Regions from separate parts of the Homo sapiens genome. Here regions 1 and 3 are each linked to region 2. The links come from fine-mapping of genetic effects on gene expression. A gene starts in region 2. Each other region holds a variant in brackets. All regions are shown on one strand. Distances are between the middles of the regions.

Evidence for each region. PIP is the estimated chance that this variant, and not a neighbour inherited with it, causes the effect.
Region 1: its variant is fine-mapped to the expression of NAPA-AS1 in cerebellum (GTEx, PIP above 0.99).
Region 3: its variant is fine-mapped to the expression of NAPA-AS1 in cerebellar hemisphere (GTEx, PIP 0.94).

Annotation. Positions count from the first base shown.
Region 1 is chr19:47,502,790-47,507,002 of GRCh38, reverse strand. NAPA (NSF attachment protein alpha) reads left to right here. Exons shown (of 11, transcript NM_003827.4): 2 at 3,501-3,580. Among named protein-coding and RNA genes, the nearest start is that of NAPA, 10 kb to the left of the region's middle. The variant A/G (reference allele first, on the strand shown) is at 1,857.
Region 2 is chr19:47,481,923-47,486,100 of GRCh38, reverse strand. It overlaps NAPA-AS1 (NAPA antisense RNA 1), which reads right to left and starts at 1,819. Exons shown (of 4, transcript NR_038452.1): 1 at 1,577-1,819. KPTN (kaptin, actin binding protein) reads left to right here and starts at 1,882. Exons shown (of 12, transcript NM_007059.4): 1 at 1,882-2,166; 2 at 2,517-2,599; 3 at 2,722-2,806; 4 at 2,886-2,940. The coding sequence starts at 1,941. It also overlaps a transcript of NAPA not described here. RefSeq lists enhancers at 1,508-1,637, 1,668-1,957.
Region 3 is chr19:47,578,776-47,582,988 of GRCh38, reverse strand. It overlaps the pseudogene RN7SL322P. Among named protein-coding and RNA genes, the nearest start is that of ZNF541, 7.7 kb to the right of the region's middle. The variant G/A (reference allele first, on the strand shown) is at 1,589.

The DNA of each region.
Region 1 (4,213 bases), 21 kb before region 2:
AATAAATGCTCGGATACCTGTTCCCCAGGTGAATAAATGTGTATGTGAATGGCTTCTTCAGGATCTTCCACTGGAACCTAGGCACGTCACTTTCCCCCTTTGGGGACTTCACTCCCATTTCTAAAAGAAGAGGATGGGACCCTGGAGATCTCCTGTCATCCCCTGGCCATGGTAATGGGCAAGACCGCGGGGTGCAGGGGAAGAAGGAGGCAAGCCTGGGGCCTGAGCAGGTGTTAATCCCTCTGGCCTTTCCACCCCACAGAATCATTGACCCCGTGCAGGGTTGGCTGTGCTTAGCCTGGGATCACAGAGTTTCAGCCCGGGCAGCTGGTAGGCTTTGTGTCCGTCCTGAAATAAACCCGGCTGGGCTGACTCTGCTCATTGTTGATTGCCCGCTGTGGGCCACTCAGTGACGTGGGTCATTTCTGCCCATCCAGGGTCTGTGCTTTTTCAGAGAGTGCATGGAGCTGGATAGGACTTAGTCACACTCAAAAAGAAGGGAAGGCTGAGCTGGGGGACCTGTGGGGTGGGCAGACCTGTGATTAAGGTCTGAAAATGTCCCTTTAAGAGAACATTCCAGAGAAGGTCCTTCTGAGGGTTTTTTGCAGCCAGGCCCCAAAGGACCCTTCAGGATTCTCAGCCAGAAGGTTTTGAAAGTTTCTTACCTCTCCAAGGCCAGGAATGGGTTCTAAAGAAGTCATTCCAGGCTGGGCACGGTGGCTCATGCCTGTAATCCCAGCACTTTGGGAGGCCGAGGCGAGTGGACCACTTGAGGTCAGGAGTTCGAGACCAGCCTGGCCAACGTGGTGAAACCCTGTCTCTACTAATAATACAAAAATTAGTAGGGTGTGATGGCACACATCTGTAATCCCAGCTACTCAGGAGGCTGAGGCAGGAGAATTGCTTGAACCCGGGAGTTGGAGGTTGCAGTAAGCTGAGATCGTGCCACTGTACTCCAGCCTGGGCGACAAGAGCGAAACTCCATCTCAAAAAAAAAAAAAAAAAAAAGAAGTCACTCCAAACAAGGCCCAAGGTGTGTTGGGCTGGCTGAGGTGAGGTGGGTGAGGGAAGACAGAGTGCAGCAGGGCGAGTGCGGGAAGAACACATTGCTCAGGGCCACTTCCCAGGGACAGCAGAGGGTGGGGGACAGCATCAGCACAGCCCCAGAAGGCAGAGGGTAGGCTTTTCATCTGGCAAGATGACAGAGAGGATAGGAATAAATAGATTATTTACCTGGTGTGATGTGGATTCAGGAGGCCAGGATCCCTGGCCCAACCAGCCCGCCCACCGTGGGGGCATTTATTTGCCTGCTGACATTGCCAGGCCTGGCCGCTGATCTGATCGCTGGTGGCTGCTTTCCAGGTAGTCGGTCTCAGTCAATTTTTCCTTCTCAAACTCACCTGATCAGCTGAATTACCTGGGCCCCCCAAACCCCAATTGTTAAAAATCTCATTTGCAGGCCCCATCCAGACCCTACTGAGCGAATCCCAAAGTGTGTGGCTGTGGGACTCTGGTTTGATGAAATGAGCACTTCATGTGGCTGAAAGGGATGGGCAGGTTGGACACACTGAATCCGCAGTGCAGAGGGAAGGAATGCTCACATCCCAGCTCCCAAAATTACCTTTGAGCCCCTCCACAGCTGGGGTTGGTGTGGACAAGTTCCCAGGTATAATGTTGGGCCAGTTGACACAGGGTGTGGGATGGGATGGTGAGGATGATTTGAATGGGAAAGTACCCACTCCTCCCTTTTCTCTTCCTTAAAAATAAACTAAACACTAGTTATGCCAGTGAAGAGAGGCCCTGAAATCCATTTGGTGGGACTCCAGAGTGTGTGGATTTTATTCTACTGATTATGT[A/G]GATATTGGGAGTTTGAGCAGTTACAGAGACTACAGACCTCGCGGGCTAAGCCTGGTTGTATTATTAAGGGCAGAAGAATGCAGTGGGACTTACGGGTTTGAGGTACTAATGAGGTCCCCCAAGTCAAGAGGAGGCTCATTATGTACATGTGGAGGTCAAGAAGCCAGAGTGAAGCTGCCCAAACAGGGTACCCTTTATGTTTTCAAATTCCTGTCTATCTCCCAGTGTATCCCTACTGTTGGACAATAAGTTTTTGGGGGGTTTTGCTGTTTTAAATAATGCTATGCTGAACATCCTTGTAACTTTTCTGATTAGTTTTTTTAGGATAAATTGCTAGAGATGTAATTCATTGCTGGACCACAGGGCCAAATATAAATCCTAATACTTAAAAATATGTGTGTGTGTGTGTCTGTGTATGTGTAAATGTATAGATATATACACACATATATACACATACACATATATACACATGTGTATATATGTACACGTGTGTGTATATATGTATATATTTTTTTTCTCGAAAAGATGTACAAACAGTTAAAAAAAAATTCAGACAGTACAAATACGGGATGTCCAGTGAATAAGTCTGCCTCCCACACCTGGCCCTCCTTCTGCAGGCTTCACCTTAAGAGAAAAATGCTGTTACTAGGTTTTTGTGTATTTGCCCAGAAATATCCTATGTTTATATAAACATGTATGTTTCTATTATTTTCACTCTCTTTCTCTTTTTTTTTTTTTTTTTTTTTTTGAGACAAGGTCTGGCTCTGTCGTCGTCCAGGCTGGAGTTCAATGGTGTGATCTTGGCTTACTGCAACCTCTGCCTCCCAGGCTCAAGTGATCCTCCCACATCAGCCTCTCTAGTAGCTAGGACTACAGGCGTGCACCATCACACCCTGCTAATTTTTTGTATTTTTTGTAGAGTTGGGGTTTTGCCGTGTGGCCCAGGCTGGTCTCGAACTCTTGAGCTCAAGCAATCCGCCAACCTTGGCCTCCCAAAGTGTTGGGATTACAGGAGCCATGAACCACCACACCCAGCCCACCCTCTTTTTTTTTTAAACACAAATGGGAACATCTTATATCTACACTTTAAAATAGTGCTTCCCATTTCTTTGTATGGCTGTGTGATATATATGCCCAGTCCTGAGCTGGTAATGACACACTCCAGGGCTGCAAGGTCTTTATTGAGCAACCACAGAGTGCAAGGCACAGGATTAAGGCTGCCTCTGCGAAAGCAACACGATGTCTTAAACTGGGCTAGTCCCCCAGAATGCTTTGCAGTCTCCCGGGGAAAGGGGATTTGTAGCGCGCCTGGGACCCAGTGGGCCCCTAGTATCCCAGGCAGGAAGTAGAAGAGGCTGTCAGACCCTGGGGTTGTGGTGGGGTCAGGAACTCTTCGCCCCACTACCCCAGCAAGCACCCAGTATCTACCCCAGTACTCCCGGAGGGAGCTGGTCTGCCCGAAGTGAGTGTGCCATTGTATGCAGGGGCGGGGGCCACAGACTCAAGAGGCCTGGGGGAAGCTGGCTTCACAGGTGAAGGGTGAGGGGTAGGGGCACGTCTGTGCCCGGCACTGGAGCAGAATGCTTGCTTTCTCCTGGATAGCCGACTAGATTGTCTCCTTTTTTTCTTTCCTTTTTCCCCAGAGGCTCATCCAAAATAGAGGAAGCATGCGAAATCTACGCCAGAGCAGCAAACATGTTCAAAATGGCCAAAAACTGGAGTGGTATGTCATCTCCGCTAGAGCTCCTCCAAGGTGCTCTCCTCCTCCCTCAGCTTCCACTCACACAGGCCTGCCCGAGAGGTTGGCCTTGAGGGCCCTTTCTCTTTGTATGCCCTCTCCGGCATCGGAAAGCCACTGGCCTGCTCTCTTGTTTTGTGCCTGCTGGGTTACTTTATACTCTGGGTCATGGGGCCTTGGTGAAAGGACAGAGAGGATGGGAATAAATAGATTATTAGACCTAGATAAACCCATGTGGATTGATGAGCTCTTAGAGTCCTCCTTAAATTCAGAACTTCAGGTTTCCTGGTAACTTCCTTAGTGCTTCCATCAGTGTCTAAATTCTAGGCTGGGGGAGGATGTTCAGGTGATTCCAATAACAACGTGAATCATGGCTGCTGTTTGTTGAGTCCTAAGTGCTCATCATTTAATTGCGTTAGCACAGCAGCCCTAAGGGTCAGTCTATAAATATCCCTATTTTACAGATTTGGAAACTGAGGCTTGGCTTAGTCTCTTGCCCAGGATGCCAGAACTAGTAAGTGACAGAACCAAGATTCAGAAACCAAGGCTCTGACTGCAGAGCCTGAGTGTTTAACCTGCCCCAGTGAGGCAGGATAGCTTCACAGAGGAGAGGGGTGG
Region 2 (4,178 bases):
TACAGGCATGAGCCACCAGGCCCGGCCTGTTTTGGTTTGTTTTGTTAAAACTTCATAGGCAGTTCAAGTGTGCAGCTAGGATTGGAAACCTCTTAACAGGATGATTCCTTCCTAACCTGTAACTTCATTTTTTCATTCATCCGCTCAACATGTGGCTTATAGGTTACTAGGGCGGGAAGACGCCTGAAGGAAACGCACTGCTGAAGTGGCACTAGACCCACGTGCCACTCCCTCAGCGAATATTCACTAAGCACCTGCTGCATGCCAGGCCCTGGGAATACAGCAGCACTGACGGCATTCCCAGACTGCCCTCCAGGAACTTCTACTCTCCACATCCAGAAATCTGGAATCATCACAAATTCCTTGCCACCTCCGTTATCCAGTCTGCCTTTGAGAACTTTCCATCATGTAAGAGCTGTCTCTTACATGCTCAGCACATAGTTTGTGATTTTTGACACATATTTTCTGAATGCCTGCTTTGTGTCAGGCCTTGTGTTCCAGGTACAGGCGATAAGGCCGTGATCAAGGGAGATCAGCCTGCTGCCTTCATGGAGCTTGCAGTCTGTGTGTGCTCGAGGTGTCCAGGACAGCTGGCCAACCCATGTCTTCTGGAAATGATACACAGATGTGCACATAGTACCCAAACCTCCATGGCCTTCTAGGGACAAAGCAGCACAGACAGGAACCCCTGAAGGCCCCAGAGTCGGAAACACCTGGTTTACATCCTGTCCCCACCACTTGCTAGCATATCAGTCAGTGGACTTACTCTTTCTGAGCCTCCATTTGATTCTCTCTAAACTGGGATAATAAACCTCTTTGTAGAGGTTTCTTTCTTGCAAAGATTAGTGAGACAGATTTGCAAAGGACGTCCGGGCACATAGTAAAAGCTCAATGAATCCTGAATAAGTGAACCGGCAGGGAGGGTAACAGTAGGCCCTTGCAGAACAGTTGTAAGGAATCAGATTATCAGAGCCAGCATGACTGTCACCAAGTAGGTGTTCGATAAAGGAGGTGGTTATTATAGCTGGATCATTTTTCCTTGGGGGCAAGAAGAATGTATTAATTATTTTAAAGGTGATACTGTTAAGATTATGAACTATAGGCCGGGCAAGGGGGCTCACGCCTATAATCCTAGCACTTTGGGAGGCCGAGGTGGGCGGATCACCTGAGGTCAGGAGGTCCAGACCAGCCTGGGCAACATGGCGAAACCCCATCTCTACTAAAAATAGAAAAACTAGCCAGGTGTGGTGGCGCCTGTAATCCCAGCTGCTGGGAGGCTGAGGCAGGAGAATCGCTTGAACCCAGGAGGCAGAGGTTGCAGTGAGCCGAGATCGCACCACTGCACTCCAGGGTGACAGAGCAAGACTCCGTCTCAAAAAAAAAAAAAAAAAAAATAGTGAACTGTGGAGTTACCTTGTTTGGTTTCCAGTACTGACCGCTCGTTACTAGCTGTGTGATCTTAGGCAAGTTACTTTACCCCTCTGTGCCTCAATTCCTTCATCTCTAAAATGGATTTAAGTACCTACCTCCACCCCCTTGCGAATTTTTAATAAAGTATTAGATGGAATGCACTTACAGTAGTTCCTGGCACATAAGGGCAATATTAAGTTTTATGATGATGATGATTCGACCTTCCACACAGCATACAGCGAGAGGCCGTGGCCACCACCTCCCATCTCTAGTCACAGACTCCTTATGGCAGCCCCTTGGTCCAGAAATGGAAAGGAGAAGAGAGCGCGGGCGCAGTGGGGCAAAGTCGCCTGGGAGGCCCGAGCAGGCGACCTGGCCGCCATCTTGGGAGAGGGCAACGCCGGCAGCTTCCGTACGTCATCAGCCCGCGCAACGGCCGGGCACCCGGCGGTTCAGGTCGCTTAGAGAGTCGTAGGTTGGGTAGTGCGGGTTGGGGCGGGGGCTGCGGAGAGGGTGCTTAACTGAGGGGCATGATGGGGGAGGCGGCCGTGGCCGCGGGGCCTTGTCCGTTGCGCGAGGACAGCTTCACGCGCTTCTCGTCGCAGAGCAATGTGTACGGGCTGGCAGGCGGCGCCGGCGGGCGCGGGGAGCTGCTGGCCGCCACCCTTAAAGGCAAGGTGCTCGGCTTCCGCTACCAAGACCTCCGACAGAAAATCCGGCCAGTGGCCAAGGAGCTGCAGTTCAACTACATTCCCGGTGGGTGGCGCTATGGTGCTGGGGGGCGGGGGCCTGGAACGTGGTGTTGAGAAGGCTTCTGAGGCTCTGTCTGAGCCGGGTCACCGTGCTGGAAGAATGGGATCAGGTGGTTTTAAGGGGGTCACTGGGATCAGCGGGCAGGCATAGTTGGGGCCCGGATGAGCCTAGGGTTTCAGGATTCTTCAGACTTACAGGTCAGGATCCCTAGTACCCAGGGAACAGAGATCAGGTGATGGTGGTCAGGACTCAGACCAGAGGGCATGATCATTGCGGTAGCCAGAGCTCACCATGTTGGGGAGATTGGAAGCATGAGTCTGCCTGACACTGAACTTAGAACTCTCCCCTCCCAGTGGATGCGGAGATTGTCTCCATCGACACTTTCAACAAGTCACCCCCCAAGCGGGGTCTGGTTGTGGGGATCACGTTCATCAAGGTACCTAGAGCCCCCTCCACCTCCCTTCGCCCTCCTCCTTACACACATGGTGAGTTCCACTGAGCCGCCCCGGATCCCTCCTGCCACCCCTGCCCTCCCCTGAACCCCGTGTCCTCCGCCAGGATTCAGGGGACAAGGGCAGCCCCTTCCTGAACATTTACTGCGACTACGAGCCCGGCTCTGAGTACAACCTTGACTCTATTGCCCGTGAGTGAGGCGTGGACGGGAGGAGGGAGAGAGTCCCCAGCAGGTCCCCCATGCTAACCTGCCTGTGCCCTGCCTACAGAGAGCTGCCTGAACCTGGAGCTCCAGTTCACTCCGTTCCAGCTGTGCCATGCGGAGTGAGTGTCCCCTGCGCATCGACGCCCACTCCACTGTAAATGTAGAAACCCTGGCTTCTCGAACCCCTTCTTTACTTACAGACCCCTGTAGTCTGTTTCCCCTTCTGGAAAATAAAGAGGTTGTACTAGATTAGGGATTGAAAACTAAAATGCCAGCCGGGCACGGTGGCTCACACCTGTAATCCCAGCACTTTGAGAGGCTGAGGCAGACGGATCACCTGAGGTCAGGAGTTTGAGACCAGCCTGGCCAACATGGCGAAACCCCGTCTCTACTAAAAATACAAAAATTAGCTGGGCATGGTGGTGTGTGCCTGTAATCCCAGCCTACTCAGGAGGCTGAGGCAGGAGAATCACTTGAACCCGGGAGGCGGAGGTTGCAGTGAGCCAAGATTGCACCACAGCACTCCAACCTGGGTGACAAGAGCGAAACTCTGTCTCAAAAATAAATAAATAAAATAAAATGAAATTAAACTAAAATGCCTTTGGGGACCAGAGAGGTCATGTGAGAATGGAAAGCACAAATGTAATATAACAGGGAGCACATGTGCACACACACATATGCAGCTGAGGTTGGAAAGCTGTAGCTAACTGGAGACCACGAACTTGTCCATAGACAATCAGATTCTACATTTGTTTTTTAAAGCATTGCACTTTTTTTTTCTTTCTTTTTTTTTTTTTTTGAGATAGATGCTCGCTCTGTTGCCAGGCTGGAGTGCAGTGGCTCGATCTCTGCAACCTCTACCTCCCTGGTTCAAGTGATTCTACTGCCTCAGCCTCCTGAGTAGCTAGGATTACAGGCTCACACCACCATGCCCGGCTAATTTTTGTATTTTTAGTATAGATAGGTTTTTGCCATGTTGGCCAGGCTAGTCTCGAACTCCTGACCTCAGGTGATCCGCCCGCCTTGGCCTCCCAAAGTGCTGGGATTACAGGCGTGAGCCACCACGCCTGGCCGGAGCATCATGCTTTTAAGGTGGCCATGGACCGGATGGCCAAGGGGCCACCACACTGCCATTCCTGAACTAGATAATCTGAGAGAGTTGATGGAGCACCTGTGAATTCTGGGAATTCTGCACATCTAGAATTCCCAGATTCTAATGTTCTAGAGTCTGACATTCCAAGATCAGAGATGCTAAGTTTTCTAGAGTCGTAGGCTCTAAGATTCCAACATTTGAATATTCTACAGTACGATAGAAGCCAGAATCTTCTGAGGTTCTGTAATGATAAAGTCCTGACAT
Region 3 (4,213 bases), 97 kb before region 2:
CACTTTTAAATAAGCCCATTTTCAAATATATATAAAAATAAAAGAGTATGATTAACTCCACATGCCGGTCACTGGGCCTCACCAATTATCAACTCATGGCCAATGCTGTTTCATTTCTACCGTCTCTCATTGGCCCCACCCTCACCCCACTAGATAGTTTTAAAACACATCCCAGACATCACATCATTTCATGTACAGATTATTCATTTCATATCTCTGGAGATAAGGTTTGTTTATAGAAATATAACCACAATCCCGTGATCCATCTAAAAAATGCACCATAATTCTTTCCTATCATCGAATAGGCAGTCAGAGTTCAGATTTCTCTACTTGTCTGATAATTTAAAAACAAAACGAAACAAAACATTGGTCTGTTCGACTCAGCATCCAAAGTCCTTGGGTTGCATGTGGTTGATTTGTGGCTACAGTCTCTCTTATCTCTCGGTTCCCTCAAGGGAGGAATTCTTTTTAAAAAATGAATGGAAGAGGCAGGAGCATTTGAGGATAGTGATGGGCATGATTTGGCAGAAGGAGAGAGAGATGATGAATGATATAGGAGACAGGAAGAGAAAGAGGAGAAGAGGAGGAAATGAAGAGGAGGGAGGAGAAAGAGGGGGGAGGGCAGGAGGAAGAGGAGGAGGAGAGGAAGAGGAGGGAAGGAGGAGGGGAGGAGGAGGGGGAAGGAAGAGGAGGAGGAGGGGGAAAGGAAGAGGAGGAGGACAAGGGGAGGATGAAGAGGAGGGGAGGAGGAGGACAGGCAGAGGAAGAGGAGGAGGAGGGGAGGAGGAAAAGGAGGAGGAAGAGGAGGAGGGGGGAGGAGGAGGAGAGGAGGAGAAACTTCAATGGAAGAGGAAAGAGGGAGAGAAGGAGGGAGGTGGAAGGGAAGAAGGAAGGAAGGAAGGCAGGGAGGGAGGGAGAGAAGGAAGGAAGGAAGGGCGGGAGGCAGGGAAGGAAGGAAGGAAGGAAGGAAAGAAGGAAGGAAGGAAGGAGGGAGGGAGACCCCAATCCTTGAGAGAGGGAATCACAGGGACAGATGACAAGGGGGTTCCCTTCTGATGGCTTCTATGTGCACAGGGAAGTGTGGGACCTAGTCATGGGCTGGAGGGCAGGGGGGAAATGTAAGCACACCAGAGACACATAGAGAGTGCCCTGCGCCTGTCTGAGGCCTGTGATTTCTCTGATTCAGGTAAAACCCGTTGGGCTGGCTGGGTGGTTTCCTTCTGCTGGGCTCGGCTGGCACAGAGAAGAGGATGGCTGGAGTTTGGCCAGGTGAGTCCTTTAGAGGCCGAGAGGAGTGAGGAGTGTGAGAATGCTTGAAGGACGTGATTCAAAAGACAAATCACAGAAAGCAATGCTGAACAAAGTGAATAGATGGAGACAACAGGAAAAGGTTGGCAGAGAAGAGGAACCTGCGGCCAGGGTGTACCCCTCTCCTTCTGAAGAGCATCTTTTCCCTTAGCTTCTCAGGGGCTTCCATTTTATTTTGTTTTGTTTTGTTTATGAGAGATAAGGTCACATTTTGTAGACCAGGCTGGAGTCCAGTGGTACAATCATAGTTCACTGCAACCTCGGACTCCTGGGCTCATGC[G/A]ATCCTCCCACCTCAGCCTCCTGAGTAGCTGGGACTATAGGCACATGCCACCACATCTGGCTAGTTTTTTCTTTTTTTAAGAGATAGGGTCTTGCTATGTTGCCCAGGATGGAGTGCAGTGGCTATGCACAGGCATGATCCCACCAGTGATTAACACAGGAGTTTTGACCTGCTCCATTTCCAACATGGGCCAGTTCACCCCTCCTTAGGCAACCTGGTGATCCCCCGCTCTCAGGAGGCCACCAAACTGATGCCAAACTTAGCGTGGACCCTGCATTGGCATAGTGTACTACAGCCCAGAACTCCTGGTCCCAAGTGATCCTCCTGCCTCAGCCTCCCGAGTATCTGGGACCACAGGTGTGTGCCACCATGCCTGGCTCCCTTACTTTAAAAAAAATAATAATTCTATCTATGTCCCTAAACTGCTTATTGTTTAGCTTTGCCTGTGTTTTGAAATGATATTTATTTTTGAGACAGAGTCTCACTGTGTTGCCCAGGCTGGAGTGCAGCGGTGGGATCATGGCTCACTGCAACCTCGACCTCCAGGGCTCAAGTGTTCCTCTCACCTCTGCCTCCTGAGAAGCTGGAACTACAGGCAGATCACGCCACCATGCCCAGTTTATTTTTAATTTTTCTTGCCATGTGGTCCAGGCTGGTCTTGAACTCCTGGCCTCAAGTGATGCCTCCTGGCTCGGCCTCCCAAAGTGCTGGGATTACAGACACGATTCACCACACCCTGTTGAAATGTTATATGTAAATGGGAGCACATCTGTGTTGCTGTGTGTAATGGAAATTGACTCATTTTCACTGCTGCATAATACTCCATTGAATAACTATACCACGATTTATCCAGTCTCCTATAGGTGGACATTTTCATTTCCTTTCCTTCTTTTTTCACCCTAAACTTTTTATTTTGGAGTAATTTTAAATTTACTGGAAACTTGGAAAGATGGTACAAAGAGTTACCACATCCCCCTCACCCTTTCCCTGATGTTGGCATCTTACTTTATCACAGGACAGTCATGTGCCACATAACAACGTTTTGGCCAATAAGAACTACACATATGACAGAGGTCCTGTAAGATTATAATACTGTATTTTTACTGTACCTTTTCTTTTTTCTTTTCTTTTCTTTTCTTTTTTGTTTGAGATGGACTCTCGCTCTATCGCCTAGGCTGGAGTACAGTGGCGAGGTCTCGGCTCACTGCAGCCTCCGCCTCCCAGGTTCAAGTGATTCTCCTGCCTCAGCCTCCCAAGTAGCTGGGATTACAGGTGCCTGCCACCACACCTGGCTAATTTTTGTATTTTAAGTAGAGATGGGGTTTTACCATGTTGTCCAGGCTGGTGTCGAACTCCTGACCTCAGGTGATCCACCTGCCTCGGCCTCCAAAGTGCTGGGATTACAGGCATGAGCCACCACGCCTGGTCTACTGTACCTTTCTATGTTTTGATGCACAAATACTTACCTTTGTGTTTCAGCTGCCTACAGTATTCAGTACAGTTGCATGCTGCATGTTTGTAGCCTAGGAACAATAGGCTACACCATACAGCCTAGCTGTGTGCTAGGCTATACCATCTGGGTTTGTACAGCTTACGACGTTCACGCAACAAGGAAAAAATCACCTGAAGATACATCTCTCAGACAGATCTCCGTTGTTAAGTGACACAACTATACATTTGTCAAAACTACAAAAACATTGGCCAGGCTCGGTGGCTCATGCCTAAAATCCTCATACTTTGGAAGGCCGAGGCAGGCGGCTCACCTGAGGCCAGGAGTTTGAGACCAGCCTGGCTAACACAGTGAAACCCCGTCACTACCAAAAAATAAAAAATGTATAAGCCAGGCATGGTGGTGCACTTCTGTAGTCCCAGCTACTCAGGAGGGTGAGGCAGGAGAATGGCTTGAACCTGGGAGGCGGAGATTGCAGTGAGCCCAGATGGCACCACTGCACTGCAGCCTGGGCGACAGAATGAGACCCTGTCTCAAAAAAAAAAAAAAAAAAAACACACACACACAAAACAGGCGGGGTGCAATGGTTCATGCCTGTAATTTCAGCACTTTGGGAGGCTGAGGCGGGCGGATCACCTGAGGTCAGGATGAGTTCTAGACCACCCTGGCCAACATGGTGAAACTCCGTCTCTACTAAAAGTATAAAAATTAGTTGGGTGTGGTGACGGGCGCCTGTAATCCCAGCTACTCTGGAGGCTGAGGCAGAACCTGGGAGGCGGTGGTTGCAGTGAGTCAAGATCATGCTATTGCACTGCAGCCTGGGAGACAGAGCCAGACTCCATCTCAAAAAAAAAAAAGGCTGGGCGTGGTGGCTCACGCCTGTAATCCCAGCATTTGGGAGGCCGAGGCCGGCAGATCACGAGGTCAGGAGATCGAGACCATCTTGACTAACACGGTGAAACCCCATCTACTAAAAATACAAAAATTAGCTGGGCGTGGTGTCGGGCGCCTGTAGTCCCAGCTACTCGGGAGGCTGAGGCAGGAGAATGGCGTGAACCCGGGAGGCGGAGCTTACAGCAAGCTGAGATTGCGCCACTGCACTCCAGCCTGGGCGACAGAGCGAGACTCTGTCTCAAAAAAAAAAAAAAACCCCAAAAAGTGGATACATTACTATT